Regions from separate parts of the Homo sapiens genome. Here all the other regions are linked to region 1. The links come from fine-mapping of genetic effects on plasma protein levels. A gene starts in region 1. Each other region holds a variant in brackets. All regions are shown on one strand. Distances are from middle to middle.

Region 1 (10,841 bases):
AGAGAAGGATTTAAGAGTAAATATAAGTTAATTATATATACGATAAAAGTCTACTGAGTTATACATGCCTTTGGGTCAGACATGTGGAAATGTACATTAGTCAGAATTATGAGTAGAGTGCTCTTGAAGCAGGTGACACTGGAGTATGTGTGTTATTGAAGCCAAGAAATGCTTCTGGTGATAGTAATAAAATATTCCACCAGAAGTGGCAAAGCAGTAAAGATTAATTATGTCATATAACAAAACTTTTGAAGGTAGGCAACTCCAGGTTTGGCAAAGTGGCTCAGTGATGTCCCCAACAGTCCAGTCTCTTTCTTTTTTCTTTGCCATCCTCAATATTTGGTTTTTGGTCTTGGGCTTGCCACTCATGGTTGCAGGATGGTTGGTGGCAGCATTCTGAAACATTTATCTGTATACAACATTTAAAACAAGAAGAGAATGGGGTGAGAAACAAAGAATAGAATTGTGATTGCCAGGGCTGGGGGAAGGGGAAAATGTTGCTAATCAATGGCAACAGATATAAAATTTCTATTATGCAAGATGAGTAAGTTCTAGAGATCTGCTGTATAACATTGTACGTATAAATAACAGTACTGAATTGTGCACTTAAAAATCTGTTAAGAGGGGCCAGGCACGGTGGTTCACACCTATAATCCCAGCATTTAGCGAGCCTGAGGTGGGAGGGTCACTTTAGCCCAGGAGTTCAAGACAAGCCTGGGCAACAAAGTAAGACCCTGTCTCCACAAAAAATACAAAAGTTAGCTGAGTGTGGGGGTGCACGCCTTTAGTCCTAGCTACTTGGGAAGCTGGGGCTGAAGGATCACTTGATCCCAGGAGTTCAAGGCTGCAGTGAGCCATGCCACGACACTGCACTCCACCCTGGGTGACAGAGCAAGACCTTGTCTAAAGAAAAAACAAAACAAAACAAAACAAAAACCTCGGGCGCGGTGGCTCACGCCTGTAATCCCAGTAATCCCAGCACTTTGGGAAGCTGAGGCTGGTGGATCACCTGAGGTTGGGAGTTCAAGACCAGCCTGGCCAACATGGAGAAACCCTGTCTCTACTAAAAAATACAAAATTAGCTGGGGATGGTGGCGCATGCCTGTAATTCCAGCTACTTGGGAGGCTGAGGCAGGAGAATCGCTTGAATCCGGGAGGCGGAGGTTGCGGTGAGCCAAGATCACGCCATTGCAGCCTGGGCAAAAAGAGCAAAACTCTGTCTCAAAAGAAAAAAAAACATCTGTTAAGAGGATAGAGCTGTTAAGCATACTTACTAAAATAAAATTAAGAAGAAGGCAGAAAGCAGAAAAAGAGAGGGAGGAGGAAGTGGAGGTGGAGAAGAGGGAGTAGGGGGAGGAAAGGAAGAAGGAAAAGAAGGAGGCACCAGTAAGCTCTCCTTGCCTGATTTATGTTTTCCTAATCAAAAGGGAAATCCTTAAAAGCTCCTCGGGTGACTTTCTCTTAAGTCTCATTGATCCGAACTTGATTATTTGATCTTCTCTAGCTCAAGAGAGTATGGGAAAGTAAATATATTGCAAAGTACAATGAGATTGTCATCACTGCCTTAGATTAACTATTAATCCCCCAGGACTAGGCATATTCTGTATCCTCACCATAGAAAAAAGAACCAGGGCTCTATTAGAAGAAAAAAGAAGAACAATGGATTTTTGTTATTTTCATTTTTATTGTTTGAGACAGGGTCTCTCTGTGTCTCCTGGGCTGGAGTGCAGTGGTACAATCACGTCTCACTCAACCTCCCAGGCTCAAGTGCTTCTCACACTTCAGTCCCCCGAATAGCTAGGACTACAGGCATGCATCACCACGCCTGGCTAATTTTTGTATTTTTTGTAGAGATGGGGTTTCGCCATGTTGGCCAGGCTGGTCTCAAACTCCTGGGCTCAAGCCATCCACCTGCTTTGGCCCCACAAAGTGCTGGGATTATAGGTGTGAGCCACCACGCCTGGGTAAAAAATGGCCCGTTGCTAGATAAGTAAGAGTATTAGCCAAGGAGTAGATGGATTTCCTTATGGAGAGGATTTAAAATGAATTAGAAAAAAAAAATAGCCGGGCGCGGTGGCTCATGCCTGTAATCCCAGCACTTTGGGAGGCTGACGTGGGTGGATCACCTGAGGTCAGGAAGTCGAGACTAGTCTGGCCAACATGGTGAAACCCCATCTCTACTAAAAATACAAAATTAGCTGGGCGTGGTGGCAGGCGCCTGTAATCCCAGCTCCCCGGGGCGGGGGCGGAGGGGGCGGGGCGTGGCGAGGCAGGAGAATGGCTTGAAACTGGGAGGCGGAGTTTGCAGTGAGCGGAGATCGCGCCGTCGCACTCCAGCCTGGGGGACAAGAGCGAGACTACGCCTCAAAAAAAAAAAGAAAAAAAATTAAGGACATGGGATGAAACCCTAAGGGAGAACACTATTTGAAGAGATGTTAAGAGGTAAAAGAGATTGTGAAGGATTGAGAAGGCAGACTCTTGAGAGGTAGTTAGTAGGCTAACACCATGGTCATTACAAAGAAAATGGTTCTGTGTTTTCACAGAATTTATCCAAGAGAAGAGTAGCTAAGACTTATACACCAGTAATTATAGAAACAGTATTGTATTAGTCTGTTCTCATGCTGCTAAGAAAGACATGCCCAAGACTGGGTAATTTTATAAAAGAATGAGATTTAATGGACTCACAGTTTCACATGGCTGGGGAGGCCTCACAATAATGGCGGAAGACGAGGAGCAAGTCATATCTTAACATGGATGGCAGCAGGCAAAGAGAGAGTGAGAACCAAGCGAAGGGGATTTTTCCTTATAAAACCATCAGATCTCATGAGACTTACTCACTGCCACAAGAACAGTATGGGGGAAACCACCCCCATGATTCAATTATCTCCCACTGGGTTTCTCCCACAACATGTGGCAATTATGGGAGCTACAACTCAAGATGAGATTTGGGTAGGGATGCAGCCAAACCATATCAAGTACAAAAGTTGGTGTGGGTCTGTAAGCAGGGTTTCTCAACTTTGGCACTATTGACATTTAGGACCAGATAACTTTTTTTTTTTTTTCGACACAGAGTCTCATTCTGTCACCCAGGCTGGAGTGCAAGGGCATGATCTTGGCTCACTGCAACCTCCACCTCCTGGGTTCAAGCAATTCTTCTGCCTCAGCCTCCCAAGTAGGTGGGATTACAGATGCCTGCCACCACGCCCAGCTAATTTTTGTATTTTTAGTAGGGACGGGGTTTCACCATGTTGGTCAGGCTCGTCTCGAACTCCTGACCTCAGGTGATCCTCCCGCCTCGGCCTCCCAAAATGTTGGAATTACAGGTGTGAGCCACCACGCCTGGCTCAGATAACTCTTTATTGTGGGAGCTCGTCCTGTGCATTGTAGGATGCCTGGCAGCATCCCTGGCCTCTACCCATTAGGCGCCAGTAGCAAATCTCCCCCACTTCCCTAGGTATTATAATAAAAATGTCTTCAGACATTGCCAAATCTCCCCAGGGGGACAAAATCACTCCTAATTGGGAATCACTGGTTTATAACAAGGAGTGCTTCAGGAAAGGCTGCAAATGGGGCAATAGTAATTAAAACGGATCTCCAAGACTGGATATCATTTAGCCAAGCAAAGTCGGAGGAAAAGAAATTCCAAGGAGCATTTGTGCAGAAACAATGATGGAAGATTTCAGGTGTGCTTAGGCACACAACATGTACTCATGTCAGGCTCTCACCAGAGCATCTGAGTGCAAGTTGCATGATTTTGAACAGGAGAAAAAAATCTAATCAGAACGGAGGACTAGGGAGATTACTAGCCATCTGTGTGTTGGGTGGATTGGGGCAGGGAGAGATTAAAGGCAGGGATAACAGTAATCCAGAGGGAAAGTACAATGAATGACCAAACTAGGGCAGTGAGAGTGGGAACTGAGGGGGATGACTAAGAGATTTTGTGGAGATACAATTGGGACGGCTTAGTGATTACGGGATGGGGGAGGCTCATATCTTTCTCTCTTGCTTTAAGTACTATCTATAAAGATAGGAGCTATATGAAAGTTTGGAGGCTGGATAATTGGAAGCACATTAATGACATCAGCAGAGAGAGGGAAGCAGGTTAAAAAGGGAAGATTATGTGCTTGGATTTGGATTAATTGGGCTTGTTAGAATAGAGATGAACCAGAGATCTAGTATAGTTTTAAAAGTTATCAGACTACAGGTCATAGTAGAGACACTAGAGGACAGAGTATAAAGAGGAGATTCAAGATCAGATACAGGTGGGATGAACACCTTGCCTATATTTAGAGGGCATGAGGTGATCATAAATAAGGTGTAAGGACCTGCCAGAGAGGCTGGAGGAGATTCAGAATCCTATCGTGGAAGGGAGGAGTTTCAAGGAGAAGGAGGATAGCTTTGTGCGTCAGGGTGGAAAGTACCCTGAGAGGTTCTAGAGAACTAGCAGAAAGAAGACTTTACAATATCCTTTCAAAATAGATAGGAATTAATTTATTTTTATTTTTATTTTTTTGAGATGGAGTCTTGCTCTGTCGCCCAGGCTGGAGTGCAGTGGTGCGATCTCGGCTCACTGCAAGCTCCACCTCCCGGGTTCAAGCCATTCTCCTGCCTCAGCCTCCCGGTAGCTGGGACTACAGGTGCCTGCCACCAAGCCTGGCTAATTTTTTGTATTTTTAGTACAGACTGGGTTTCACCGTGTTAGCCAGGATGGTCTCGATCTCCTGACCTCGTGATCCGCCCACCTCGGCCTCCCAAAGTGCTGGGATTACAGGCATAAGCCACCGCGCCCAACCCAGTAAATCTAATTTTACATGGGGATTAGGTACTAGAGTGTGTACAACAAGGATAAAAATAAATCCAGTGAGTCAAAATTGTCATGGGAAATTTCCCAAAAAGTACAGTATAAATGATTTTCGAGTATTGAACTTGGTGTGTGTCTGTGTGTGTATGCATGTGTGTGTGCACATGTATGTAATGGGCAATGAATGCAAGTATTATAGGAAATATAAAAACAGTACAATTTTGAAGTATTTTTTACTATGAGAAATAGAGAAAGAGAATGACATTGTTTTCTGAGTGTGTAGAGTAGAATTTTAGAGTAGATTTTCCTCTTTTAAGACAGAGTATCATTGCCTTATGTAAACTCTCCTATTCAAATTCCAGGAACTGTTAATAACTCAAGGCAGAGAATATTTGTGAGTTTCTGCTTTCCTAGAGAAAATTTAGTAAGATACAGGGAAGACATTCTGCAGGTAGTTGGCACATATTTTTCATAATGATGGCAATAAAAGCCTTTGTTAATAACAGTGAGGACAAAATGAAGCTGGACTGTCTGGCGCTCTGGAGTCAACCTCAAAATTAGTGTCTATTAGAAATCTTAGAAATGCTGTCTCTTCTTCAGTAAAAGACACTGCCCATAGATGGGTATATGGTATATATCCAGTTTGGATCCAGTTTTCCTTAAATATCTTTTACTGTGACTTGTTTGAAGTACAGTGCCACTGTCAGAGTAACAACCTTCGTTGATCATGAGCCTCATCATTTGGGAAAAGCATGTGTGTTGTCTGGGAGAGAAGCTTTGGGAGTTTACAGTTGACAATGAGGGAGAACTGTGGGGCCCTTCTATCAACACTAAAGGGAAATGGGAGGAGAGACATAGCTAGATTGTTCTTATATTCTTTTTTTTTCTTTTTTTTTTTTTTTTTTTGGAGATGATGTCTCACTCTGTCACCCAGGCTGGAGTGCAGTGAAGTATGAAGTGATCACAGCTCACTGCAGCCTGGATCTCCTGGGCTCCAGTGATCCTTCCACCTCAGCCTTGGGAGTAGCTTAGACTGCAGGCACATACCACCACAAACAGCTAATTTTTGCATTTTTTGTAAAGACTGGCTTTTGCTATGTTGCCCAGGCTGGTCTTGAACTCCTGCTTTGACGTCCCAAAGTGCTGGGATTATAGGCGTGAACGCCCGGCCCTCATATTCTTCTGTGGATGTTAATTCCCTAACTTTCTCACTTCCCTTCAAGCTCTTTTTTTTTTTTTTTTTTTAAATATATACTACCTTCTCTCTTCCTTTGTTGCTAACATCAAAAGAATCCTTAAGTAGGGGTAACAGCAACAGGGTTGGAGGTGAAACTGTACCTTCAAGCCAAAAACAGCCTGAAGGCTGAAAGACCAGACTGCTGGTCCTGGATGAAATCCATGACGCAGAGTGAGAATTTCTGTTCCTGTTTGCCTGCCCCTCCCCTATTCTGAGCCGATAAAAAGCCCCAGGACTCAGCCTCATGGAGGAGACTTTCCTGCCTTCGGGTAGGGGGACCACCCCCGCTTCCCTCTCTGCTGAAAGCTGTTTCATCCCTCAGTAAAACTCCCCGCCTTGCTCACTCTTCAATTGTCAGCACATCTTCATTTTTCTTGGGCATGGGGCAAGAACTCAGGAACCAATGTGCAAGGCAAACTTGTCTCAGGCGGGCAAATTGCGTGGGGTGCCTCCTGCAGCAGGTAGTATGCCCCGAGCTAGGCCTCCGGCATTGCCGGCTAGAGGTCCTTGACTGGCAAAGGGACTGAGAAAAATCCTGCATTGAGGGAGAGGGGGGCGAGGGGCGGTCGTTGGATCTAGGAGTAATTGCCAGGCTTGCTCTAGAACTTATTAATGCATTTATATCTATGACCCCATCACTCTCTATCCCCTTATTACTCTTTCTCATAAAATTTACCACATGGTACCTGTTTTTTTTTTTTTTTTTTTTTTTTTGAGACTGAGTCTTGCTCTATTGCCCAGGCTGGAATGCAGTGGCATGATCTTGGCTCACAGCAACCTCTCTGCCTCCCAGGTTCAAGCGATTCTTGTGACTCAGCCTTGTGAGTAGCTGGGATTACAGGCACCCCGCAACCACGCCCGGCTAATTTTTAGTAGAGACGGGGTTTCACCATGTTGGCCAGGCTGGTCTCGAACTCCCGACCTCAAGTGATCTGTCTGCCTCAGCCTCCCAAAGTGCTGAGATTACAGGTGTGAGCCACCATGCCGGGCCATAGAGTAACATCTTTATTGAGATATAATTCACATAACATACAATTCACCTATTTAAAGGGTATAATTCAGTGGTTTTTAGTGTGTTCACAGGGTTGTGTAACCATTACCACAATCTAATTTGAGAACATTTTAATCAATTCAAAAAGAAATCCAACGCCCATGAACATTCACTCTGCATTCCACCCTGTCCCCAGATTGAAAACAACTATGTGTTTTCTGTCTCTATGGATTTTCCTGTTCTGCACATTTCAGATAAGTGGAATCATATAATATGTAGTCATTTGTGAGACGCTTCTTTCACTTTGCATAGTTTTCAAGGTTCATCCATGTGACTGCATGTAATCAGTACTTCATTTCTTTTTATTGCAGAATATAATAATATTCCATTGTATGGATGATACCATGTTTTATTTAGCCATTCCTCAGTTGATAAACATTTTGCTACCTGATTTAAAGCTTACTTTCTGTTTCTCACACTAGTATATGAGCTTAATGAGGGTAAGAACATTTTTGTTGTTTCCCACTCAGTCCCTAGCATTTTGCACATTGCCTGTCTCATGTCAGTGTCAGGTTCAAATCTATCTAGCTGTGCTTTCACTGACGGGGGCCAGGAGGTTTCACAAGGACTCAATGGCTGATTAAATGCTTACAGATACAGATTTCTCAGGGCAGAACTTCTGCAAGCATTTTGGCTGTGGTCAGTTACTTTCAGGTTTTCATTACTTTTTGGTTTTCACAGCATCCGCAAGTGCCCATAGCCATTATCTCAGCTGCCTCTCTCTTTACTCTCTTGCCAATGGTGCCAGGCCACAGCAGGTGTTATCTTATCACCTCAGTCCACCATACATATGCTTATCAATTTGAGGGGTCAGCAATTTCACTGGAGGCTGAAACCCTTGTCATAAATGGCTCCATTTTGAGACATTTCAGATTACAAACCACTGTTATATACCAGCCTAGCATGTAGAAATCACTCAGTACATTTATTGAACACATAATTTAACCATTCATTCACCTGACCAACAGTCATTAAGCACTGACACATTTGTTTTCAACACTCCCTCTCTTCCACGGCAGGCCACTTGGTATGGGAGATAAATATGACAAAGGATCTGCCCTTACGAATCTCATAATCCACTGAAGTGACAACTGTGCAAACAAATAATTAAAGTAAAATTAAGAAGCTGGGCACAGTCTCACATCTGTAATCCCAGCAATTTGGGAGGCGGAGGCGAGGGGATTGCTGAGGCCAGGAGTTCAAGACCAGCTTGGCCAATTTAGTGAGACCCCATCTCCATTAAAAAATGATAAAATAAAATAATTGATTTTGAGAAAGGATGTGGACAAAGTGCAGCACATAGACCAAGGGCCCAGTTCTGTTTGAGGGCATTGGAAGCAACTTCCACAGCAAAGACTTGGGTTGAAATTTACAAAAATAGGAGTTTGCCAGCTTGACAGAGAGGCAGCGGAGGTCAACCAGCAGCACACTTAAGCAGTCATGGAGGCTGACCTAGGCGCTGGACATGGAAAAGTAGCAATCCTGGAGCTTTGTATAGATGTGGGGAGGGAACTTACAGGGGACCAACTAGGCTACTGGGCAATTTCACATTATAAAGAATTTTATATGCTCAAATTAAAGGATTAAAAATTTTCCCCCATGTACATAATAAATTGGCAAAAATGGTTATATTTGAGGGTGACTAAGGAACTCTGGGAAAGAGATCGGCAAACCAGGCACATGTTCTTGACTACTGCAAAAGTACATTTAAAGTAGCCGCGGGGGATACATGTATACTTTTGGGCAGGATTGTGCCGTGGTCCTCTCAGCATGCAGCAAAGTTACTTTGGGGACAGTAGGGAGGTGGGCAGGAGCCAGTGATGACGGAATGGCAATCACATTTGACCTCTGATCTGTTTATTTCCTCCTCCTTGACGTCTCCATATAAATGTTACACGGGCATCCCCACACTCGGATACGCACCCACAGTGGCTGATTCGGGGGTAACCGTGTCATTTGCTTGCAACACTGGCACCTCTGCCCTGCACCCCGGGAGTGAGCAGTGAGTGAGGCTCGGGTCTGGGCGCTGGCTCCGAATCTTCGGGCTGGGAGAGACTCCACCATCTGGGGGCGGCCTGGGGGAGCAGCCTTAGTGTCTTCCTGCTGATGCAATCCGCTAGGTCGCGAGTCTCCGCCGCGAGAGGGCCGGTCTGCAATCCAGCCCGCCACGTGTACTCGCCGCCGCCTCGGGCACTGCCCCAGGTCTTGCTGCAGCCGGGACCGCGCTCTGCAGCCGCAGACCCGGTCCACACGGCCAGGGGCTACGACCCTTGGGATCTGCCCTCCGCTCAGCTCGAGCTTCCCTCGTGGCCGACGGAACAATGAAGGTAACTACTTATGGTTTTGTCCGTGTTTTACAAAAATGTGTGCGTGAATCGAACCGGCGATTTCTCCAAGAAACATAGTTGGCAGGGAGGGGAGGAAGGCGAGACAACCATGGCTTATATCCCCCGCAAACGTCTCAGTATCTTCTTTATCAATCGTAGTTTGCGGGGACCGTGCATTCTGTTCAGATTTCGGTTTAACCTCCACTCGCAGGACGTGCCTTCTCGGACTTTTTCACATTCGCTTTTGGGAACGGAGGTGAAAGTCTGCTACAGCTCCCTCCCCTGCTTGTGAAGTTTGGAAAGGAAGTGAGGGCTTCTCTCAGTTTCTCCTATGCACAGGAGGTGGGGAATTTTGGAGAGGAGGTCTGGGGATGTCCCGGGCTGTAAATGCGCTTTCCTGCAGCGTGTGTTCGTGATGCAGGAGGGAGCGGCTGGAAGAGTTGACCCGGGTGGAGAGGGGAGGGAGAACGATCTTTTCACTGTTAAAAGCAGAAGGCCCCTCTTATTTTGTTTCTTGTGGAAATTAAAGCTTCTAGGAGTTACAAATGATAGACGCCTAAGGGCATTCATTTGTTAAACCAGTGAGCACCCTAATGGCTCTGATCTTGCTAATCAAGGATAATTAGCCTAGCTGCCTATTATTTCTGACTATTTAGGTGTAGGGATGTACACCGTTGAGTGTTTTGTTTTCCTAGTTTCACACACTGGAAAACTGCAATCGCATATAAAACCCGAAGAGCAACTTTTTCCAAGGAAAGTGAAGGATGGGCAGATATTCTTGCCATCTAACATTTTGGAATTGAGATGACCATAATGCAATCTGAACTTCTGGTAGGAATAAAGCCTCGTTTCAGAGTTTCTAAGGAGGGAGATGAAGCGTGGTTCTCAACTGCTCTTATCTACAACCCATCCCAGACCATAGTTTCACTTAGAAGAAATAATATGTAAATAGCGCCTTTGTTGCCAAACAAAAACTTTCACTACAATTAAACAGTAACCGAGTGGAAACTATGCGTTTTTGTATTCAACAGAGATCACACAACTTTTCTTCTATAGTTAGAGGTTCTATTTCTGGCTTCCTCATGCTTGTTTCATTTCAGATGAAAAACACACTTTAGTTGATTATAGCTTTAGTAAGTAAAAGGAGAAAACTAAGAATGAACAGTCTTGCTTTTCCAGCTTTTTCCTGTCCATGTGCAGTTGTGGTTAATTACGCGTTTTTGTAGGTCCAAAAACCCCTGTCCCTTCCACAAGATACTTTTATAACATGGGGAACTAGGTAAGATATCTACAAGTAGTCTCTTTTCTGTTTCCTGATATTTCCTAAGATTAAGAAAGAAATGATTGTATTCTAGGTATGATCGAAGAAGTATGGAAGGTTCCATTAAGTTAGTTTTATCACAATATTTCAAACATCTTTCCACT
Region 2 (10,841 bases), 120 kb after region 1:
GGTGGCGCGTACCTGTAATCCCAGCTACTCAGGAGGCTGAGGCAGGAGAATCACTTGACCCTGGGAGGCAGAGGGTGCAGTGAGCTGAGATGGTGCCACTGCACTCCAGCCTGGGTAACCTAAAAAAAAAAAAAAAAAAAAAAAATTAGACTTTCCAAGGGCAGCGTGGAAGCAGTGACCAGCCTGAGTAGGCACGCACACTTCTTGGGGATAGCCTCCTCCATAGCATTCTTAGAAGGTTTGGTAATGACCAGTTTTTCTGAGTAAGACCCTATCTACATTATTCTAATTAGTAACCACCTTTCATCTGCTAAGGTAAATTTTCACTTCAGAATATTCCTCTTAAGACCATGCAATAACTCTTACTGTTTGTTGGTGGAAAACCATCTCATTATTTTACTGGTTAAGGGTAAACTGAAGATGATTAGATAACTTTCCTTCCTTCCCTCCCCCCTTCCTCCCTTCCTTCTCTTTCTTCCTTCCTTTCTCCCTCCCTCCCTCCCTCTCTCTTTCTTTCCTTCTCTCTTTCTTTTCTTTTCTTTTTTCTTTCTTTCTTTCTTTTTTCTTTCTTCCTTCCTTCGTTCCTTCCTCCCTCCCTCCCTCTCTCTCTTTCTTTCTTTCTCTTTTCTTTCTTTCTTTCTTTCTTTCTTTCTTTCTTTCTTTCTTTCTTTCTCTCTTTCTTTTCTTTCTTTCTTTCTTTCTCTTTCTCTTTCCTTCCTTCCTTCCTTTCTTTCTCTCTCTCTCCTTCCTTCCTTCCTTCTTTCCTTCCTTCCTTCTTTCCTTCCTTCCTTCTTTCTTCTTTTTTTAAATAAGGGTCTACCTGAAGTGTGAACTGATTTGGGAAATTTGATCATGCAGAACAGTAAAATTTTCTTTATGTTTGTTGCTAGCAAAATTGTGATGGTTTTTTAAAAAAATGGCTATTGATAATAAGGCATGCCTAATGTAGTGAAAGTTTGAAAATGTCCCAATTTCTGATTGACAGAAGAAGAACTGGCAACTCCTCCACTAGATGGCATCATTCTTCCAGGAGTGACAAGGCGGTGCATTCTGGACCTGGCACATCAGTGGGTGGGTGCCTTTGATATGAACAACTTTTGTAAGCCTGAAATAAAAAATAATCAAAATAAGCCCAGCCTAGTGTTGAAATAATATCCTGTGGTTCCAACCAATGTTATCTAATCTTTAAATTCTAACGTGAATGAAAAGTATTCTTCTAGAAGGGCTTTCTTGGCAAGACTATTAAAATAAGTATTGTTGATAGCAAGGGCAGAGAGAAACCAGTTTAGCAAGATGTCATAGTGGAGAAGTATTCTAGTAGTAGTCTCAGTCTACCAGGTATCTCCCACCAACTTTTGTCTGGTTCATACCTGATGTGCTTCCATCCAGACATTCCTTAACTTCCCAAGTCTGTGTTGCTTCCAAATGGCAATGATACTTCTTCCTTTCCTTTATTTATACCAGTGTAACCATGCTTGCCGTAGAAATGAAATAATTTCACTGACATATAAATGTTTACTAATATAACATTATTGGTTTGACTGCCTTCTTTTTCTCTCTGTCCTACCCCCATCCTCCAAAATTCATATACATGCCTATTTTAAAATCAGAACATGCAAGCAAATGTAAAGTTGTTTTCAGTAGACTTTCAAATTCGTGTGACACAGGCAAGCATATTAAACAATTTGGTGGACCGGGTGCAGTGGTTCATGCCTATAATTCTAGCATTTTGGGAGGCCAAGGCAGGAGGATCACTTAAGCCCAGGAATTCGAGACCAGCCTGGGCAACATAGTGAGACCCCGAATCTACAAAAAAATCAAAAACATTAGCTGAACATGGTGGTACATGCCTGTAGTCCCAGCTACTTGGAGGGGCTGAGGTGGGAGGATGGCATAAGATCTGGAGGTCAAGGTCGCAGTGAGCTATGATCAAGCCACTGCACTACAGCCTGAATACAGGGTGAGACCATGTCTCTAAAAGTAAATTAAATAAATAAATAAATAAATAAATAAATAAATAAATAAATAAAATAAAATTTAAAAAGGTTTGGTTTTGGAAATGACGTAATGTATTCAAGACAAATTATTGAATGAATTGGGTGTCTGGTAAAGGTTCTTGGATGGAACTTTTGACCCAGGTGTTAAAATGGTCTCCAAAGAACATGAAAAGGCTTTGAGCTTACTGTGGTCAAAGAGTACTAGTAGTAATAGGACAAATGTTTAGAAACACACACGTTATCTAGGAGCATACCAGCATGGTTTCTCTGGAAAAGACTTTCAAAATAGATGAAATGTGCTATAAATAATTCTACAAAACCCTGAAGTAGACAAGACCCAACTGCTACATGCTGGCTGGCGCATTGGGCATGACATTTACAAACCGTTGGTATAATTTTCAAACAGCTTGCCCTGTCCTAAATATGTTTGCAATTGGAAAGATATTTTTGAAGCTCAGTAATTTTTGTTTTATTAAAGAAAAATATCAACCAAGTACAGAAGGTTCGACGACAAGTTGCAAGTGGAAATACTTTCCCACACTAATGATTTGCTAGCATGAAAAATAGGTTATTATGGAGGAAATTTTTTCTTGACTTCATAGCTGTAATTTATTTTAAAAGCTATTTTAAAACATGAGACGTGAAATGCCAAGAGGCATGTAGGGGGTCACCACTATTTGCCAGATAGGGGAAATTGTCCAAAGATAAGTAAGGGTGAGCAGAGCAAAAACAATTCTGCTTATTTACAAAAGAGTTTTCTTTTCTTTTCTTTTTCAGGACACAGAACTCAGCTTGTTTTCAATTAATTTGCCTGATTTTCTGCAGTTCATTTACTTTTGAACAACATAATTGCAATTGTAGACTGAGAGAAATTGAAACTTTCAAAGAGCCATATTTCTATTGCAGATATATTTTCCTGCTCTTCCAAATCTACTTACAGCATGAGTTCTTCTTTTAAATATTCAAATATTTTGAATATTGCCAAGAGCTTTGATTTCCATTTTTATCTCTTGTGGGTTTATAAATTAAGAAAAAATACTCATCTTATTTTTTTAAACCTCTCTATTTTTATTGCCCTTTATTCAAATAACTTGTTGACAAACTTTGAACTTGAACCACTGAGGTAAAAGAACAAGAATTAAACAGATAGTTTAAACACATAGCTTAAAAGGATCTTTTTCCCATTTCCTATCCTTGAGCAAAGAATATATTCAAACACTTTGGCAGAAGTCAATGAGGTTATACCACTAATTCCATGATGAAAATCAACTGAATGTGATACTGAAAGAGAAGGAAGAGAATTGTCACTGTAAAGTCAACTGTTAGTCATATTAGGAAAAAAAATACATACAATACAATTTCTCAAATAAAGTCCAAATATACATTCAACGTTTAAAAATAATGAGTATTTCAGATATTTGAACTCAGTCTGTTCTTTATTCCATAAAAGATATAGGTAAGCCGTGCACAGTGGCTCACAACTATAATCCCAGCACTTTGGCACTTTGGGAGGCTGAGGTGGGAGGATCACATGAGCCCAGCCTGGGCAACATAGGGAGACCCCTATCTTTACAAAATAAAATATAAAATATAAAACCTAGTTGGGCATGGCAGCATACACCTGTAGTCCCAGGTGCTCAGGAGACTGAGACAGGAGGATCACTTGGGCCTGGGAGGTCGAGGCTGCAATGAGCCAAGATTATGCCACTGCATTCCAGCCTGGGTGACAGGGCAAGACCCTGTCTTAAAAAAAAAAAAAAAAGAAAGAGACAAACGTAGAAAGAGTACCAAATTTGGAGCCAATCAGATCAGACCTGGGTTCAAATTGAGTTTCTGTCACTTACTTCCTTTGTGGCCCTGGAGATGCCCTTCAACCTCCTTGAACCTTAGTTTCCTCATCTGTAAAATGGGGATGATAGTACTCACCCTTAAAATTACAGAACTTGGCATAATAGCGGGTGCTTGATAAATGGTAGCTATAATTATTAATATTATATAATACATTGTTCTCCTTTATGGTAAAGTAGGTTTTAAGACACTGATTTTTTTGTTTTGTTTTGTTTTTGGAGACAGAGTCTCACTCCGTCACCCAGGCTGGACTGCAGTGACGTGATCTTGGTTCACTGCAACCTCTGCCTCCTGAGTTCAAGCGATTCTCCTGCCTCAGCCTCCTGAGTAGCTGGGATTACAGGCACCCGCCACCATGCCTGGCTAATTTTTGTATTTTTAGTAGAGACAGGGTTTTACCAGGTTGGCCAGGCTGGTCTCAAACTCCTGACCTCAAGTAATCTGCCTGCCTCAGCCTCCCCAAATGCAGAGATTACAGGCATGAGCCACCGTGCCCGGCCTAAGACACTGTTAACACGGAGCATGCATCAAGCAGCATTTGGGATGCATCAATTTTGTGAGACTTTATACAAGTTAACAAATAAGAAGGCAAAAAAGAAGGCATATGTTAAAGTATACCATGTGTCTTGTGGTGATAATCTTATATTTTATATTCTGATAATCTCATATATAAATCTGTGACCTTGAAGTAGGTTACTTAACACCTCGATGTGTTCACCAGTAAGATGGTGTGCCACTTCCAGCTTTCCCTTAAAGGATGATTGTGACCTTGTCTAAGTGCAATCAGAATGTTAAGCAGAACAGTAAGTATTGCAATTGTTTTGCATGCCTTTTCCTTTAAAATATACTTGTTATTTTTTATATTCCATGCAGGGTGAATTTAAGGTGTCAGAGAGATACCTCACCATGGATGACTTGACAACAGCCCTG[G/A]AGGGGAACAGAGTGAGAGAGATGTTTGGCTCTGGTACAGCCTGTGTTGTTTGCCCAGTTTCTGATATACTGTACAAAGGCGAGGTACGACAAGTATTTCCTCATTTCCTATCATTTCCAATCACATTAAATTACATTTAATTTAAGTGTATGAATAAAATTGTATCTGGACCCAGACCCAAGATGCAAAAGTTTTGTCGTTGTTGTTGTTTTTCTTTATTTTAAAGAGATGGAGTCTCGCTGTGTTGCCCAGGCTGGAGTGCAGTGGCTATTCACTGGTGTGATCATAGCTCACTGCAGCCTCAAACTCCTGGGCTCACGCAATCCTTCTGCTTCAGCCTCCTGAGTTGCTGGGATTACAGGAGTGCGCCACCGCACCATGCTAGGTCTTTTTTGTTGTTGTTTTTGTTTTTTAACTTGGCACTACAAAAAAAATAACTGGGACAGTTTATCCAGATGAAACTGTATTAGCATATATCTACTATGTTTCCAGTGATTTCATGTAAGCTTAAACATGGTGGGAAGTTAGTTTTGTCCTTGGACACGTGTAAGATCTGTCTTACCTACATGTCGGGATTGGAGCTATGCCGACAGTCTTCTACTCTTCTCTCTTCCTTCCTACCAGCTCACTAGGGAAGGCTCTATAGGTAGTTACATTTCAGTTTCTGGTTAACCAAAAGTACTTCCAAACCACTGGATTAGGAATGGCAAATAGTTATGGAAAATGCATTCGAGTGGTCAATCCCTTGATTTTTTTTTACTATTAATGCTGTTATCATTAATAGTAAGTAGACCACTTTACAAGAATTATTCATTGGCAAACCTGGTGCATTTACTAAAATCTTACAAAAGGAATTTGAGGATTTGGTTGGAAGAAATGTTCTCCTCTTAGTAAATTAGTCTGATTTTATATGTGCCATACTTTTGTTTTCTTGTCAAATTGTTTTGCTTTTCACTTTATAACAAAGCTCCAATACTTATGATTAACATTGGCATCTAACTTTATAACTTAAAGGCATGTAAGTATTAGTCTTATAATGTGAACTGGCTTAAGTTATTCATATTATAGCAGATCCTTGAACAACACAGGGATTAGGGGTGTCAACCCCCATGCAGTTGAAAAATCCACATACAACTTTTTTTGTTTGTTTGTTTTTTTAAACGGGGTCTTTCTCTGTCACCTGTACTGGAGTGCAGGGGCACAATCTCGGCTCACTGCAACCTCCGCCTCCCAAGCTCAAGCGATCCTCTCACCTCAGTCTCCCAAGTAGCTGGGACCACAGGTGTGCACCACCACACCCAGCTAATTTTAGTATTTTTTGTAGAGACGGGGTTTCAAGATGTTTCACAGGCTGGTCTCAAACTCTTGAGTTCAAGTGATTCACCTGCCTTGACCTCCCAAAGTGCTGGTATTACAGGCGTGAGTCACCATGCCCGGCCCACATATAACTTTTGACTTCCCAAAAACTTAACTACTAGTAGCCTGCTGTTCACCGGAAGCCTTATCAACAACAAAAACAGTCGATTGGCACATATTTTGTATGTTATGTATGTTATATATGTATTCTTACAATAAAGTAAGTTACGAAAATCATGGGGAAGGGAAAATATATTTACTATTCATTACATGGAAGTGGATCATCATAAAGGTCTTCATCCTCATTGTCCATCATGTTGAGTAGGCTGAGGAGGAGGAGGAGGAGGAGGGATTGGTCTTGCTGTTTTAGGAGTGGCAGAGGCAGAAGAAAGTCCACGTATAAGTGAACTTGTGTAGTTCAAACCCGTGTTGTTCAAGTGTCAACCGTAAATGCAAACTCCACTGGTTTTCAAATTTTACTTTAGAGTTATTTTCCCTCAGCTGATTGGAGTTTTGCTCAACTCCTCTGACTTTAATAATGGCTGCTTCATTTGTTGAGGTTTTAGAACTTGCTTTTAAGGGATTGCTCTTGACATAATTGCATCAACAGATAGACTGTTTCATGGGAGAAGAATTGTTCTGTTTCATGTCAATACTTACATTGATAAGAATGCATCAAGGTAATGTGATCCATCCACTGAAGTTGTCATTAGGCCAGATTTTTTTTAAGTTGAATTATTATTTCACTTCTAGAAATAAGAAGTTTATAAAGTTTAGCATAATTTTAATGATCCAGGCTTAGGAAGCATTTACAGCCAAAAAGTAAGTATATATAATTATCATATTATACTAAAGGGTATAATATGAAAAGTGTTTGAGAGCACAGACTATCTCCTAAAATCAAACTATCAAAACCTGCAAGCCAGCAAGGCATGAGTAGGCATGACTCAGATACAAATTAGAAGCATGAAATCTCTTTCAGCCATGCATTTAATCATGCTATCCAATATTGTGGAGGTAGTGGCCCCTGGAAGTTTACCTTGGGCCAGAGATAGGTATAGAAGCCCCTTTTATGAAGTCATAGACTTGCTTTAATTTATGCTCCCAGAATGACTTGCATTAAACTGTGGCAAAATATCTTTGAGTTCTCATATTAGCCAGAGGGTTAATATGTAGAAGACAATCATTCATCCTTACAGATTCTCAGAATCTTGGAAGAGGTAGGGTTCTTTAAGTTTAGCCACTATTTTAGGTAACTGTAGCTCCTCCTTGGTTCTTCAAATGATCCTGAAGGCTGGTATACAAACCAGTTATGCCCTAAAATTAATTGGTAGGTAGGCAATGTATAACCTGTCATTGGCTAGTTTTTATTCAAATTTTGGATATGAAAGTCTTTGGCATAAGGTGCTAGCACTCAGAGTCAGTAGGTTTTAGTGCTATTCCTTAACTTCAGTGGAATTGCCTTAGTATAGCAGAATTGCTTGAGTGTCTTATCTGTTATCACCATATACATGAGTACCCTCAAATTATCTCATTTCCCTTTCTTTTGTAGACAATACACATTCCAACTATGGAGAATGGTCCTAAGCTGGCAAGCCGCATCTTGAGCAAATTAACTGATATCCAGGTAAAGCTTTTCTTTTCTTTTCTTTTCTTTCCTTTTCTTTTCTTTTTTTTATGTCACCTTATTTCTGTCAGAGCTTACAACTAAATTATATTTCAATGAAGAGGATTAAATAATACAATTTGAGATCAATAAGTTAAATTTAAGGAAGATATTCCCAACACAATGTGTGGGCATGAGCAAAGCAGAAATGGGAAAGAAGATGTATGTTTTAAAAAAAGAAAGAAAATATTGTTCAGGACTCCACATTACTTAACATTAAAAAATAGATGTAATTTTTGGTAACATTTAAAAATCTCATTAAGAAGGATAACATAACTTTTGTTAAAAAAAGGAAGAAAAAATTTGAAAGTAGAAGCAACTTCAGGAAGAAAATTACAGTGCATGTGATTCCAACACTGAGATATAATCACTGTTAATTTTTTATGTCTTTTTATTTTTGAGCTGGAGTTTCACTCTTGTTGCCCAGGCTGGAGTACGATGGCACGATCTTGGCTCACTGCAACCTCTGCCTCCCGGGTTCAAGCAATTTTCCTACCTCAGCCTCCCGAGTAGCTGGGATTATAGGTGTGCGCCACCATGCCCAGCTAATTTTTGTGTTTTTAGTAGAGATGGGATTTCACCATGTTGGCCAGGCTGGTCTTGAACTCCTGACCTAAGGTAATCCACCTGCCTTGGCCTCCTAAATTGTTGGGATTACAGGCATGAACCACTGTGCCCTGCCATTTTTTGATGTCTTAACCTTCAATATTTTGTAAGCATTTATATACTTTATTTATTTATTTATTTATTTATTTATTTATTTACTTATTTATTTTTGAGACTAAGTCTCGCTGTGTCACCCAGGCTGGAGAACAGTGGCATGATCTCAGCTCACTACAACCTCCACCTCCTGGGTTCAAGCGATTCTTCTGCCTCAGCCTCCCGAGTAGCTGGGATTACAGGTCTCATGCCACCGTTCCCGGCTAATTTTTGTATTTTTAGTAGAGATGAGGTTTTGCCCTGTTGGCCAGGCTGGTCTTGAACTCTTGACCTCAGGTGATCCACCCGCCTTGGCTTCCCAAAGTGCTGGGATTACAGCCGTGAGCCACCATGCCCAGCCAGTATACTTTTAGATAGTTATTTTTTCCTAACAAAATGGGATCATATTGTACATAATTTTGTTACATGTTTTTTCACTGAATAAATGCTTTGCTTTTTTATATCAATAAGTAGTTTTCTCCAACACCATTTATAAAGTTTAATTGAATTCCATTATATTGATGTACCATAATTTTTTTAAAAAATTATATTATTGAACATTTATGTTGTTGGCAATTTTTTTTTCACTAGTATGGACAGTACATCCTCGATTACTTCCTAAGGATAAATCTGGGATCAAAGAGTATACACGTCTATTTTTTCATACTGCTAACTTTGTTTTGCCTATTTTTTTTCTGAGCAATAATCTACAGTAATGCCTCATCAGGCAGTTAAGCAGGCATGCTAAATACCAGATAACACTGGGCTACTCAGAAAAGAGATTATCCTGTAATTTGCAAGCATTTCACAAGTTAGAAGACTTTGTTGAAGCCAGTTACTATCCTTGTCAATTAGTAAAAATATCCAAGAGGGCCTGAGACTTACATTGAAAAGTAAAATAAAGTTTGATCATTTGAGTGATGTCGGATGGCATTAAGTCATGAAACTAAGTGAAACTTAAAGGTGGCTGAGAATGCAACAGGCCTCCAGAGAGCAATGGAGGTCCTTGGGTAGTGATAAAAATGGCATTTCTGGCTGGGTGCAGTGGCTCACACCTATAATCCCAACACTATGGGAGGCCAAGACAGGAGGATCGCTTGAGGCCAGGTGTTCAAGACTAGCCTAGGCAACATAGTGAGAACCTTCCTCTAAAAAAAGGGAAATAAAATAAAAATAAAAGTTTAAAAGAGAGTTTAAAAGGCAGTTTTAAAAGAGACTTACTCAGCAAGTTTTCTGCCAAATTTACAGTATTAAAAAGAAAGAAAGTGTGTTTTTGTTTCTGTTTGTTTTTTTGAGACAGAGTCTTACTCTGTTGCTCAGGCTGGGGTGCAGTGGTGCAATCTCAGCTCACTGCAACCCCTGCCTCCTGGGTTCAAGTGATTCTTGTGCCTCAGCCTCCCACACAGCAGGGATTATGGGCATGCACCATCATGCCTGGCTAATTTTTGTATTTTTAGTAGAGTCGAGGTTTCGCCATGTTGGCCAGGCTGGTCTCAAACTCCTAGCCTCAAGTGATTTGCCCACCTTAGCCTCCCAAAGTGCTGAGATTACAGGCATGAGCCACCGCACCCTGGCCTTGATTGTGGTTTTTTAATCAATGAGCTGCCATACTTCTGCTCTCCAGCAAAGGTTTTCTATGAGAATTTTCTGTAAGCTAAGTAAAGGAATATCTTAATATTGGAAGAAATAAAATTTAGTCAGAGTTGTTTTCTACCTTTGTACACAGCAACACTTACAAGTAATTTGAAGAGTAGCTAATAAAAATTTCTGCATGGATGGCTTAGGCATTTTAATTTTTTTAAGGTTGCCTGAGTAAATCTGAAAATAATAAATTATTACAGTTTTGCTCAAATAAAGAACACAAATAGAACAAAAAATACATAACTGGCTAGATTACATGAAAGCCTTTTTCCAAAACAGAGGTTTAGAGGCCAGGGCAAATAGGCAGGAAAAATAAATAAAGGGCATCCAAATTGGAAAAGAAGAAGTTAAATTAGCTTTCTTAGCAGATGACATTATCTTACACCTAGAAAAACCTAAAGACTCCCTCAAAAAACCTGTAGAACTGATAAATGAATTCAGTAAAGTTGCAGGATATAAAATCAACATATAAAAATCAGTAGAATTTATATATGCTAACAGTGAACAATCTGAAAAAGAAATCAAGAAAGCAATCCCATTTATAATAGCCACAAAAAGTATAAAATACCTAGGAATCAATCTAACCAAAGACATGAGAGATCTATACAAGGAAAAGTATAAAACTATGATTTAAAAAATTGAAGAAAACACACAAAGGTGGAAAGATATTCCATATTCATGGATTGGAAGAATTAATTTTGTT
Region 3 (10,841 bases), 140 kb after region 1:
GCCCTACCAAACATTGAAGGTGTGAGCCTGCACTGTTGTTTTGTAATGACAATGACAAGAGTATAATGACAAGAGTATAATGACATCCTAGTCCATGAAGACATGTTTTCTCTTTTCCCTCCCTCTATGTATACTTACTTACTCTTAAGGAAATAATATAATTTCTATTTCTGCTTAAATCTGCCATCTCTACTTAGAATTATTTTCCCTTGAAAAATTAAATTGCATTATCCATCAGCCAAATGGAAAATCTGATTACTAAATGCCTACTTCTAGACATTATGAATTACCTGTAATATCACATTTCTTGGGCACTTCTCAGAATGCTATGATTTTACATAAAAGCATAAATTACAGAATGAGAAGAGTAAAGCTTAGTGCATATTATGCAGGTTCGCAGAGTGATATGTGGCCTACGACTGTCATTGTAATCAAAATTGATTTTTGATCATTTATAAAACTAAAACAACTAATTGAAAGCAAATTTACTTTAACTGATGAAATTCAAGATGAAGTGACAGTAGTCATGAATCACAGTTCTGTAGATCTGCTAAAATGCCAATGAACTGTTATTAATGGTGAAAGTGTTTAATATATTAATGGGAATCCAAGTAAGGAAAATAAAACACATATTTTGCCCTTACCTTAAGTCATGTTGACATCATACATAAATCAGGTAGAATTTGAAGATGTTTCATCCAGCATTCATCATGAAGCAACAGAGTCAATAGCGGGCAGTTACAGTCTGTAGGCAATGCTTTCTGGTGTGGATTATGCAAGAAACTTACAGTCATTTGGCTTCCTTTATTCCCCTTTGCATGTAAACTACCAGGTGGTAGGTAGACCCATTCTTGGCTGCCAGTATTTTTACCACTTGGATAGATTCTGCTCTCTGAGGTCTTTAAGACAAACACAGCACATGTACATTGTGATATAGGAGAAAGAACATCAGACAGAGGCAGAGAACTGGGCTTGTCAAAATTAAGGGTGACCTAGAGCCTTAGTGTCCTTATATGTAAGATGAGAAGCTTGGATTAAAATTCATTGCTCCTTACACTTGATTTTTATGCAGCAGAACTTTCTTCAAAAGAGATCACTCCTGGAATCCCAATATACAAAATGGATAAAAGTAGGATTGTTCTGAAGTAAAGAAGTAAAATCCAGAGCCCCACTTATTTGAGTCATCTCCTACCTTTTAGATGGTTATTAACATTGTTTCTAGTTCAGAAATTCTGATGTTTTATATTAATTTAAACTAAAGTTAAATTAGGACTAGAAGAGCCATTTCGTGTGAAAATAGACATAGTCTGAGTGATTTAGGCAAACCCATAGTGACAGATTTAGTGGCCTGATACACTGGCTTGGAAAGATCTGTTCCAAGTCAGTCTCAATACACAAGGCTCGGTGAACACATGGCGAGCAGTCTTGGTGGTGGTCAAGAACATGGAATTTGCTGTGAGAGAGAGCTTGGTTAGGGTCTGGGCTCTTCCATCTGTTAACTGCAAACTTGAGCAAGTTATTCAATCTCCCTAATATTCAGTTTTCTCATTCATAAAATGGATTGATAATGGTACCTTCTATGTACAGTTACTGTGGGTATTAAATGAGGTAATAAGCCTGTAAAACTCCTGGCATGATGACATTGGCCTACATTAATTGCTCACAGAGTGAGAACTTATTATAAACACAGGCATTTTTGTTGAATGACTGACTGATTGAATGAATGAATATAGAACTAGCTTTCTATTTGTGATGTATGGAATATCTCTATTTCATTTAATTTCATTTTGAATATTAAAATTCAGGCTTGCTTTTAAACCAAAGTATTTGCTGATGCAAAGAATGAAATTCTGACTATGATACAGTTACATAACTTTTGAAGAAATAAGAAAAATGCTAACACAGCATGAACAACTTTGATTTAGAGAACAGAGTCTCTGTTAAAATCCATGGGACTTGTCAACTTCATATTTTTGTTTATGAGCATAAAACACTCTTTAGTGCATGTCGGAATCATTTGATGCTTGCTGAATCACAGGTTGCTGGAACCCATCCCCAGATTCTGATTCAGTCTGAGATGAGGTCTGGGAATTTGCATTTTTAACTTGTTGTCTGGTGATGCTGATGCTAGTGGTCTGAGAATACACTTTGAGGATCACTTTTTCACAGTAAAAGTCACAGTCATTAAGCAAGTTAACTCAATGAGAAATGATAATGAAAAGGCATGTACCTAAATAGATAAAGGACCTATACCAGCTATGAATTTGAGTTCAGCAATAATTGTAAAATTTGTAATTCTTTTCAGGTATTTGGTTTTTAAAAAACTCCCTATGTATGCTTTTATCTTATGTTTTATATGGTGTCCCTCTTTTCCTCTCTTTCTCTCTAATCCAGTTTTTAATGTGAACATGTTTAATGTGAAAATGTTGTTCAAAGCAGAAGCGAACCTTTTGTGTAACCTTGGCGGTATTAAGTTTGTTTGTAAGCTATTTCTGCCCTGTTAGCTTCTGTACTGAAACACGTTTTCTTGCTTTTGTTGCAGTATGGAAGAGAAGAGAGCGACTGGACAATTGTGCTATCCTGAATGGAAAATAGAGGATACAATGGAAAATAGAGGATACCAACTGTATGCTACTGGGACAGACTGTTGCATTTGAATTGTGATAGATTTCTTTGGCTACCTGTGCATAATGTAGTTTGTAGTATCAATGTGTTACAAGAGTGATTGTTTCTTCATGCCAGAGAAAATGAATTGCAATCATCAAATGGTGTTTCATAACTTGGTAGTAGTAACTTACCTTACCTTACCTAGAAAAACATTAATGTAAGCCATATAACATGGGATTTTCCTCAATGATTTTAGTGCCTCCTTTTGTACTTCACTCAGATACTAAATAGTAGTTTATTCTTTAATATAAGTTACATTCTGCTCCTCAAACAAATGCAATTTTTTGTGTGTGTTTGAAAGCTAATTTGAGAAAATTTCATAGGTTACATTTCCTGCAGCCTATCTTTATCCACAGAAAGTGTTTTCTTTTTTTTAAATCAAGACTTTTAAAACTGGATTTCCTCCCATCACTGTTTTTTGAAGGTCCTCCAAGTCCGTGTTAAGGTAAATATCTGTTTTCTTCCTGATGTCACAGCCTGAGCATACTCTGTGCATTAGGAAGACCTGAGTGCATTTCCCACCATTGTCCTTTCCACATTATGTTGTAGCTGGCTGGCTGTCAGGCGACTACAAGACTGAGGGTCTTGTGCCTTATAGATCTTTGTATCCCCCATGGCTGACATATAGTAGGTACTCAGTAAATGGTTTTATAATGAATCAGTGAACATTTTGCTTCTATAGAAGTGTACCTTCTTTGTTTCTATATTATGAAACCTCTTTATTAGAATTTGTGATTGATTCTGACAGTGTATAGATTTACCTTATATTGTCTTTATTTTCCATGAGCTACTAAGTCATTAGAGATACTCTGAAGCATAGTTAGTTTAGGAAATCACTTCATATTGATTGTATTAGAATTATCTTGGAATTGAAGATATATCCCTAGAGCAGGGGACCCCAACCCCCAGGCCATGGGCCACACAGCAGGAAGAGGTGAGTGGTGGGCCATTGAGGAGCTTCATCTGTATTTATGGCTACTTCCCATCACTCGAATTACCACCTGAACTCCACCTCTTGTCAGCTCAGTGGCAGCATTAGATTCTCATAGGAGCACAAATCCTATTGTGAACTCTGCATGCAAGGGATCTAGGCTATGCGCTCCTTATGAGAATCTAATGCTTGATGACCTGAGGTGTAACAGTTTCATCCTGAAACCACCCTTCACCCTGCAGTCTGTGGAAAAATTGTCTTCCACAAAACTGGTCCCTGGTGCCAAAAATGTTGGGGACCACTGCTCTAGAGAGAGGTCATGATATCATACCAACCAAATGGAAATGACAAATGTTTTATGTCAAGTGTTAATTGCAGAAATAAATCTTTTTTTTTTTTTTTTGGTAGAAAACAAAGAGGCATACTCTGATTTTTATACTCTGTTTTTGCAGGTGCTCTTTTCTTTGAATGGAGATTTGATGAGCAAGTGGTTAGGATGCAGGGAGAGCTACTATGGGTGATATTTTCCTTGTTTAGGAGCTGTGAGTTAAAATTGTATCCTTTGTGGTTTATCTAAGGAAAGTCAAATCTTGACAGAAAACATTTTTCCTTGGAAGGTCAACTCTCAGACATTGTATTTTGGTTTCCCTCAGTCCTCATAACTTCCTTCTTGCTGAACATATTTTATTCTCTTTTCAGAGAAGGAAAATAAAAAGGATTCTAAAAGTTTGATGCATTGGAAAAATTTCCTTGAGGCATTTAGCAACACATAGAAAATGGGCTTTGATTCTTTTCCAAAACTTTTAGCCATAGGGTCTTTTATAGACAGGGATAGTAAAATGAAAATTGAGAAATATAAGATGAAAAGGAATGATAAAAATATCTTTTAGGGGGCTTTTAATTGGTGATCTGAAATCTTGGGAGAAGCTGTTCTTTTCAGGCCTGAGGTGCTCTTGACTGTCGCCTGCGCACTGTGTACCCCGAGCAACATTCTAAGGGTGTGCTTTCGCCTTGGCTAACTCCTTTGACCTCATTCTTCATATAGTAGTCTAGGAAAAAGTTGCAGGTAATTTAAACTGTCTAGTGGTACATAGTAACTAAATTTCTATTCCTATGAGAAATGAGAATTATTTATTTGCCATCAACACATTTTATACTTTGCATCTCCAAATTTATTGTGGCGAGACTTGTCCATTGTGAAAGTTAGAGAACATTATGTTTGTATCATTTCTTTCATAAAACCTCAAGAGCATTTTTAAGCCCTTTTCATCAGACCCAGTGAAAACTAAGGATAGATGTTTAAAAACTGGAGGTCTCCTGATAAGGAGAACACAATCCACCATTGTCATTTAAGTAATAAGACAGGAAATTGACCTTGACGCTTTCTTGTTAAATAGATTTAACAGGAACATCTGCACATCTTTTTTCCTTGTGCACTATTTGTTTAATTGCAGTGGATTAATACAGCAAGAGTGCCACATTATAACTAGGCAATTATCCATTCTTCAAGACTTAGTTATTGTCACACTAATTGATCGTTTAAGGCATAAGATGGTCTAGCATTAGGAACATGTGAAGCTAATCTGCTCAAAAAGATCAACAAATTAATATTGTTGCTGATATTTGCATAATTGGCTGCAATTATTTAATGTTTAATTGGGTTGATCAAATGAGATTCAGCAATTCACAAGTGCATTAATATAAACAGAACTGGTGGCACTTAAAATGATAATGATTAACTTATATTGCATGTTCTCTTCCTTTCACTTTTTTCAGTTTCTACATTTCAGACCGAGCTTGTCAGCTTTTTTGAAAACACATCAGTAGAAACCAAGATTTTAAAATGAAGTGTCAAGACAAAGGCAAAACCTGAGCAGTTCCTAAAAAGATTTGCTGTTAGAAATTTTCTTTGTGGCAGTCATTTATTAAGGATTCAACTCGTGATACACCAAAAGAAGAGTTGACTTCAGAGATGTGTTCCATGCTCTCTAGCACAGGAATGAATAAATTTATAACACCTGCTTTAGCCTTTGTTTTCAAAAGCACAAAGGAAAAGTGAAAGGGAAAGAGAAACAAGTGACTGAGAAGTCTTGTTAAGGAATCAGGTTTTTTCTACCTGGTAAACATTCTCTATTCTTTTCTCAAAAGATTGCTGTAAGAAAAAATGTAAGACAAAAAAAAAAAAAAAAAACAAACAGAGGCAGAGGCAGGCAGTAGCAAGAAAGCAGAGCGTAACATCAGCTAGATGGTAACATGCAATGTCAGCTCTCTTGAAGACATGGGAAACCTAAGTTACACCTTGGGTTAAAATTCTTCACCATATTAGTTTTGTTGCTTCATAAAATTTACCTAAGCAAGTGGTCTTGCTTGCCTCAAATCCAAGCAGTCTTGAACACTTGGAGGCAATTAATGAGTATATCTTAGTCAAAAGAATTGTTGGAGCTTTTTATTAAAGCTACAGTTTCAGTTCTGCTTTTGGGGAATTGT[G/T]CTATGAAAGCAGCTGCCAAAATAAGCTCATTTATTTTCTTCAATCCCACTCAGTGCTCAGTCACTATATTCTGTTTCCTTTTTTTTTTTCAAGTTGCATATTTGGTTTCCCCTTATGATTGGGAAAGATGAATTTTCAGCAGAAAACATTGTTTGTTCACTTTCAAAGAGTGATAGTTTCTAAAACATTTAGAGCAATAAATATTCATCAGAGGTACCAAGTAAGCCGGCAGAAGAGTTAAGGGTTAGAGAAATCCCTTATTTCATGTCTTGACTCTAAAATTATCAAAGTACTTTTCCTTGTAATGTGGATTTCTTCTTATGCGGATATGCAAAAACTTCAGTTATACGTAGTAATGCTAGCAGGTAATTTTAGTAGACATTTTATAACAACTGTCACTTTGTTTCGCCACATGTAGAGTTTGTTCAGCTATTTTCCAGATATCTCCCCACAAAAGGAGGCAAAGGGTACCAGCTTTTCAATGAGCATTACCTATTACTTGGCAAAGATGATGAAGACTCTATTAATAGTTCATTTGATAAATGTTGACATAACCAACAATAGAGATTAGGAAGTTAGTTTTAAGAAATCAATGGCATATAGACATTACCCTCATGGAGTTTGTATTCTACTACTTGAACTGATTGTAGCTATAAAAGCATAGTTAGATAGCTGAATAGTTAGATCATAAGCAAAGAAGGCCAGAACACATCTCTTATCAAGAAATCAATGAATAGTTTATCTCATTTTTAAAGCAACTTTATCCTTCTTTAATTCCTTCCTTTCTTCTAGTGCAAAACTACTTAATAAGGTTGGTGTTTAGGTTAGTGTTCACACCATTCCTCATCTGGTGTGAATTACCTTCTCTTTCTTTACTATTTACTACCAACCTAGTACATGTGTTGACTGAATTCTTTTCAAACAATGTTGAGTTATCATGGTGCACCTAATAAATTAACACCACAGATTACAGCATCCTTGCTGATTTTCTCAGCAAAGCCAGATTAGATGGAAATAAACAAAGAAAATGATCCTAGAGTGAATTTTTCTAGAAAATATCTATTATGAACCATGCTGTTTAAAGTATTAGCTTGAAGGTGATGGATCCAGCTATTCAGAAAATAACTTTCATATAACCATGATTTTGCACAGTATGAGGTCTTAAATGTGTGGAAAGAGATAAATTTTTTATCATTACCACAAACCCCTTTTAAAGATTCAAAGGTGGAAGAAAGTGATTTATTTTTTCTCTTCAGCATACATATATAAAAGACTTGTCAGATGTTTAATTTGGGGAGGTTGATAATGAAACATATCAACAGAGTATAGTAGTTATAGTAGTGTTTGTGGGTAAATAATTTCCTGGGGTCAGACATATATAAACATATTTGCTTCAAAATGATAAAGGCATGAAATCAGTCTTAAAAATTGAAATGGGGGTGATGGGGGAGAAAAAGAAGAACAAATTTGAAGTGCCCTTTCAAATCTGCTGGATACAAGTATTGAAGTTTTAAGTCATCTTATTCTGTCTGAAAGTGTATTTTTCATTCTACAATAGACCCAATCAACAAGACGTATAACTTGAGTTGCATGATGTTCAGTTTATGTAATCTACTGTTGGGATGGTAAGAATTGATGTAGGCTGTGGTGTAAGAATGAATTAAAATATAGTTTCACTGGCTTTTCTCTACATATCCACTATCACAATGGCTAGGTTTCCTGTTGCTCACTATTGGATTCTGGAGAAAAATTTAATGAAAGATGATATCAGAGGAAGAATAAGTGGAGGTAGAGAAGAAAGGAATGATAGAGGAGGGGAAAAAAACAAAACATATTTTTGTGTTATCCAAAGGAGCTTTTTCCTTATTCTGTCAAGCATTGAGATCTTCTTCAGCTTTCAATGTAGTTGCTAAATACAAATAATGCTACTAGGTAGTGACTAAATATAGCAAACACTTCATCAGATATTAGAATTAGGTCACACTATTGAGGTTATAATCTGAAGGTTGTGTTACATAGAAACCACTTTAGATTATTATCAACTTGGACTAGGCTTTATTTTATAATAGCATAGTAAGTAATATCTATTGTGTCATTTCTTCAACCATTTTATTCTAAGATCCATGAAGCTTCTTGAGGCCAAATAAAATAATAAGTTTAGACAAGAAGTAGATTGTGACTTTTTTCCCTTAGAGATACTATTTACTATCTCCTATCCTGATAGGTGGAAGGTTTACTGAATTGGAAATTGGTTGACTATTAGTTTTTAACTAAAATGTGCAATAACACATTGCAGTTTCCTCAAACTAGTTTCCTATGATCATTAAACTCATTCTCAGGGTTAAGAAAGGAATGTAAATTTCTGCCTCAATTTGTACTTCATCAATAAGTTTTTGAAGAGTGCAGATTTTTAGTCAGGTCTTAAAAATAAACTCACAAATCTGGATGCATTTCTAAATTCTGCAAATGTTTCCTGGGGTGACTTAACAAGGAATAATCCCACAATATACCTAGCTACCTAATACATGGAGCTGGGGCTCAACCCACTGTTTTTAAGGATTTGCGCTTACTTGTGGCTGAGGAAAAATAAGTAGTTCGAGGAAGTAGTTTTTAAATGTGAGCTTATAGATAGAAACAGAATATCAACTTAATTATGAAATTGTTAGAACCTGTTCTCTTGTATCTGAATCTGATTGCAATTACTATTGTACTGATAGACTCCAGCCATTGCAAGTCTCAGATATCTTAGCTGTGTAGTGATTCTTGAAATTCTTTTTAAGAAAAATTGAGTAGAAAGAAATAAACCCTTTGTAAATGAGGCTTGGCTTTTGTGAAAGATCATCCGCAGGCTATGTTAAAAGGATTTTAGCTCACTAAAAGTGTAATAATGGAAATGTGGAAAATATCGTAGGTAAAGGAAACTACCTCATGCTCTGAAGGTTTTGTAGAAGCACAATTAAACATCTAAAATGGCTTTGTTACACCAGAGCCATCTGGTGTGAAGAACTCTATATTTGTATGTTGAGAGGGCATGGAATAATTGTATTTTGCTGGCAATAGACACATTCTTTATTATTTGCAGATTCCTCATCAAATCTGTAATTATGCACAGTTTCTGTTATCAATAAAACAAAAGAATCCTGTTTGTGTGGTTTCATGAAATCAGCATTGTTGAATGCATGAAGTAATAATGCTAAATTAACATTTTTATGATGTCTCAAGGTTTCTGGTCAAGGGAAGTAAATGTAGGATAGTATTTTTACACCAAAATGACACAGAGAGAATTGAGCACACCAGAAAGACCAGAAACCACACCACTGGATAGAGATTCAATATGTTTCTTTTTCAAACATTTGGACAAGAAAAAAATGGGCATTTAAAAATTCTTCCTTCCCCTGGTTATGGATTTATCTGTAGTAAAACTTAGCTTTGTCGTTTGAGATTTGCACAGAATGGGGGGAGTAGATTACCTCTTCCCATTCATTGTCATAATGGATCTACATCACTGATAAACACCATACTTCTATATGTGGTTAACTAGCTTTAGAATAAAAGACACTTTAAAAAGTAAAAGGCCTAGAGATCTTCAATGAAGTGTCCCTTTTAGCCAAACCAGGCCTTGCAGAAATTGTCCTCAAAAGCACCAAGGGAGAACAAAGCCAAGTGCAGAATTACCCAAGGGTCACACATTTTGTATTCATTTTCTTATAATTTGCCCAAATGATTTGAAGTACAGCAAAACCTGAAGTTTTGCAAAGAGTTACTGTAAACTGAACTTAAAAATGTCAGAGTGCTCGGTGACCCACTTCTCCAGACCCTGTCAACCTGTGAAAATATTGGCCTTTATTCAGATCTCTCAAGAAGTTACGCGCAGAGTTTGGAAGGTCTAGGCAAAGGTTATTAGTCAAGTGTTCTTACAGTGTCAACGCTCAATTCCCACAAGCGTGAGAAAGAGAGACCTGTCATTCCTGAGGGTGATGACATACATTTACTGGAGCTTATATAATTTATCAGATAAGACAGCAGTTTCCTTCAGGGTAGAAAGTGTGTTTTCTACATTGATTTAGTACAAAACAAAAAGAAAAGGGGATATTTCAAATTTTATAATTATTTTTCTGCTAAGCTGATTCAGTGTGATTTAAGCATATTTTTCAAATCATGAATCTGATTCCATATACATATGTGCCTTATATTGTGATAATTTATTTTTAAGTGAAATATGCTATCATAGCCTGACTTTATGTATAGTGGTGACAACTTGCAGGATCGCATTTCTGTAACCAAACGGCCGACAGCTGAGGTGTAGATGCTTCCTATGGTCTGTAGAATAATCACTGGGCTTGTTCTCTAGCTATGTCTGTATGCAATCGCGACAGTGTTGATCAAAACCCATGATCATTCTCTCCAAAGGTCTTTGTCACTAAGCCACTAGGGATTCTGAAAAGTTCGTGAGCTGAAACAAATAAATTGAGTTGGAAGATTCATGTTGACTGTTTGTATCCCAAATGCAATATACCAGTTTTTGAAGCTGAACTGATTACATTAAAAAGGGATCAAGCTGCATTTGTTTTAAAGATAGTTACATGACCAAAAGTTGCTCAACATCATTGGTCATTAGATATGTGCAATCAAACCTGCAATGAGATATCACTTCACCCCAGTTAAAATGGCCTATATCCAAAATGCAGGTAATAACAAATGCTGGTAAGGGTGCAGAGAAAAGGGAACCCTCTTACACTGTTGTTGGGAATGTAA

Which allele goes with the higher level. Alleles are on the strand shown, and positions count from the first base shown. The strength of an association depends on the size of the effect and on how common the allele is. Not every link is listed here.
With allele G in place of A in region 2, the plasma level of the protein whose gene starts at base 9,242 in region 1 is lower (moderate association).

The links. PIP is the posterior inclusion probability: the model's chance that the variant is causal. The UK Biobank Pharma Proteomics Project read protein levels with antibody pairs (Olink). The fine-mapping took linkage between variants from a reference panel, not from the people measured, so its PIPs are less certain.
Region 2: its variant is fine-mapped to the plasma level of the BCAT1 protein (UK Biobank, PIP above 0.99). The variant lies in the coding sequence of BCAT1. If it changes the protein, the assay may bind it differently, which can mimic a change of level.
Region 3: its variant is fine-mapped to the plasma level of the BCAT1 protein (UK Biobank, PIP above 0.99).

Annotation. Positions count from the first base shown.
Region 1 is chr12:24,947,502-24,958,342 of GRCh38, reverse strand. BCAT1 (branched chain amino acid transaminase 1) reads left to right here and starts at 9,242. Exons shown (of 11, transcript NM_005504.7): 1 at 9,242-9,416. The coding sequence starts at 9,411. It overlaps BCAT1-DT (BCAT1 divergent transcript), which reads right to left and starts at 9,180. Exons shown (of 3, transcript NR_199054.1): 1 at 9,013-9,180. RefSeq lists enhancers at 2,649-2,888, 5,989-6,058, 6,439-6,508, 8,789-8,878, 8,999-9,348.
Region 2 is chr12:24,826,741-24,837,581 of GRCh38, reverse strand. BCAT1 (branched chain amino acid transaminase 1) reads left to right here. Exons shown (of 11, transcript NM_005504.7): 8 at 986-1,071; 9 at 4,719-4,859; 10 at 7,685-7,759. BCAT1-AS1 (BCAT1 antisense RNA 1) reads right to left here. Exons shown (of 4, transcript XR_007063245.1): 3 at 6,793-6,881; 4 at 1,027-1,105. Among named protein-coding and RNA genes, the nearest start is that of BCAT1-AS1, 12 kb to the right of the region's middle. The variant G/A (reference allele first, on the strand shown) is at 4,776.
Region 3 is chr12:24,809,751-24,820,591 of GRCh38, reverse strand. It overlaps BCAT1 (branched chain amino acid transaminase 1), which reads left to right. Exons shown (of 11, transcript NM_005504.7): 11 at 2,543-10,568. The coding sequence ends at 2,584. It overlaps BCAT1-AS1 (BCAT1 antisense RNA 1), which reads right to left and starts at 734. Exons shown (of 4, transcript XR_007063245.1): 1 at 645-734. The variant G/T (reference allele first, on the strand shown) is at 6,086.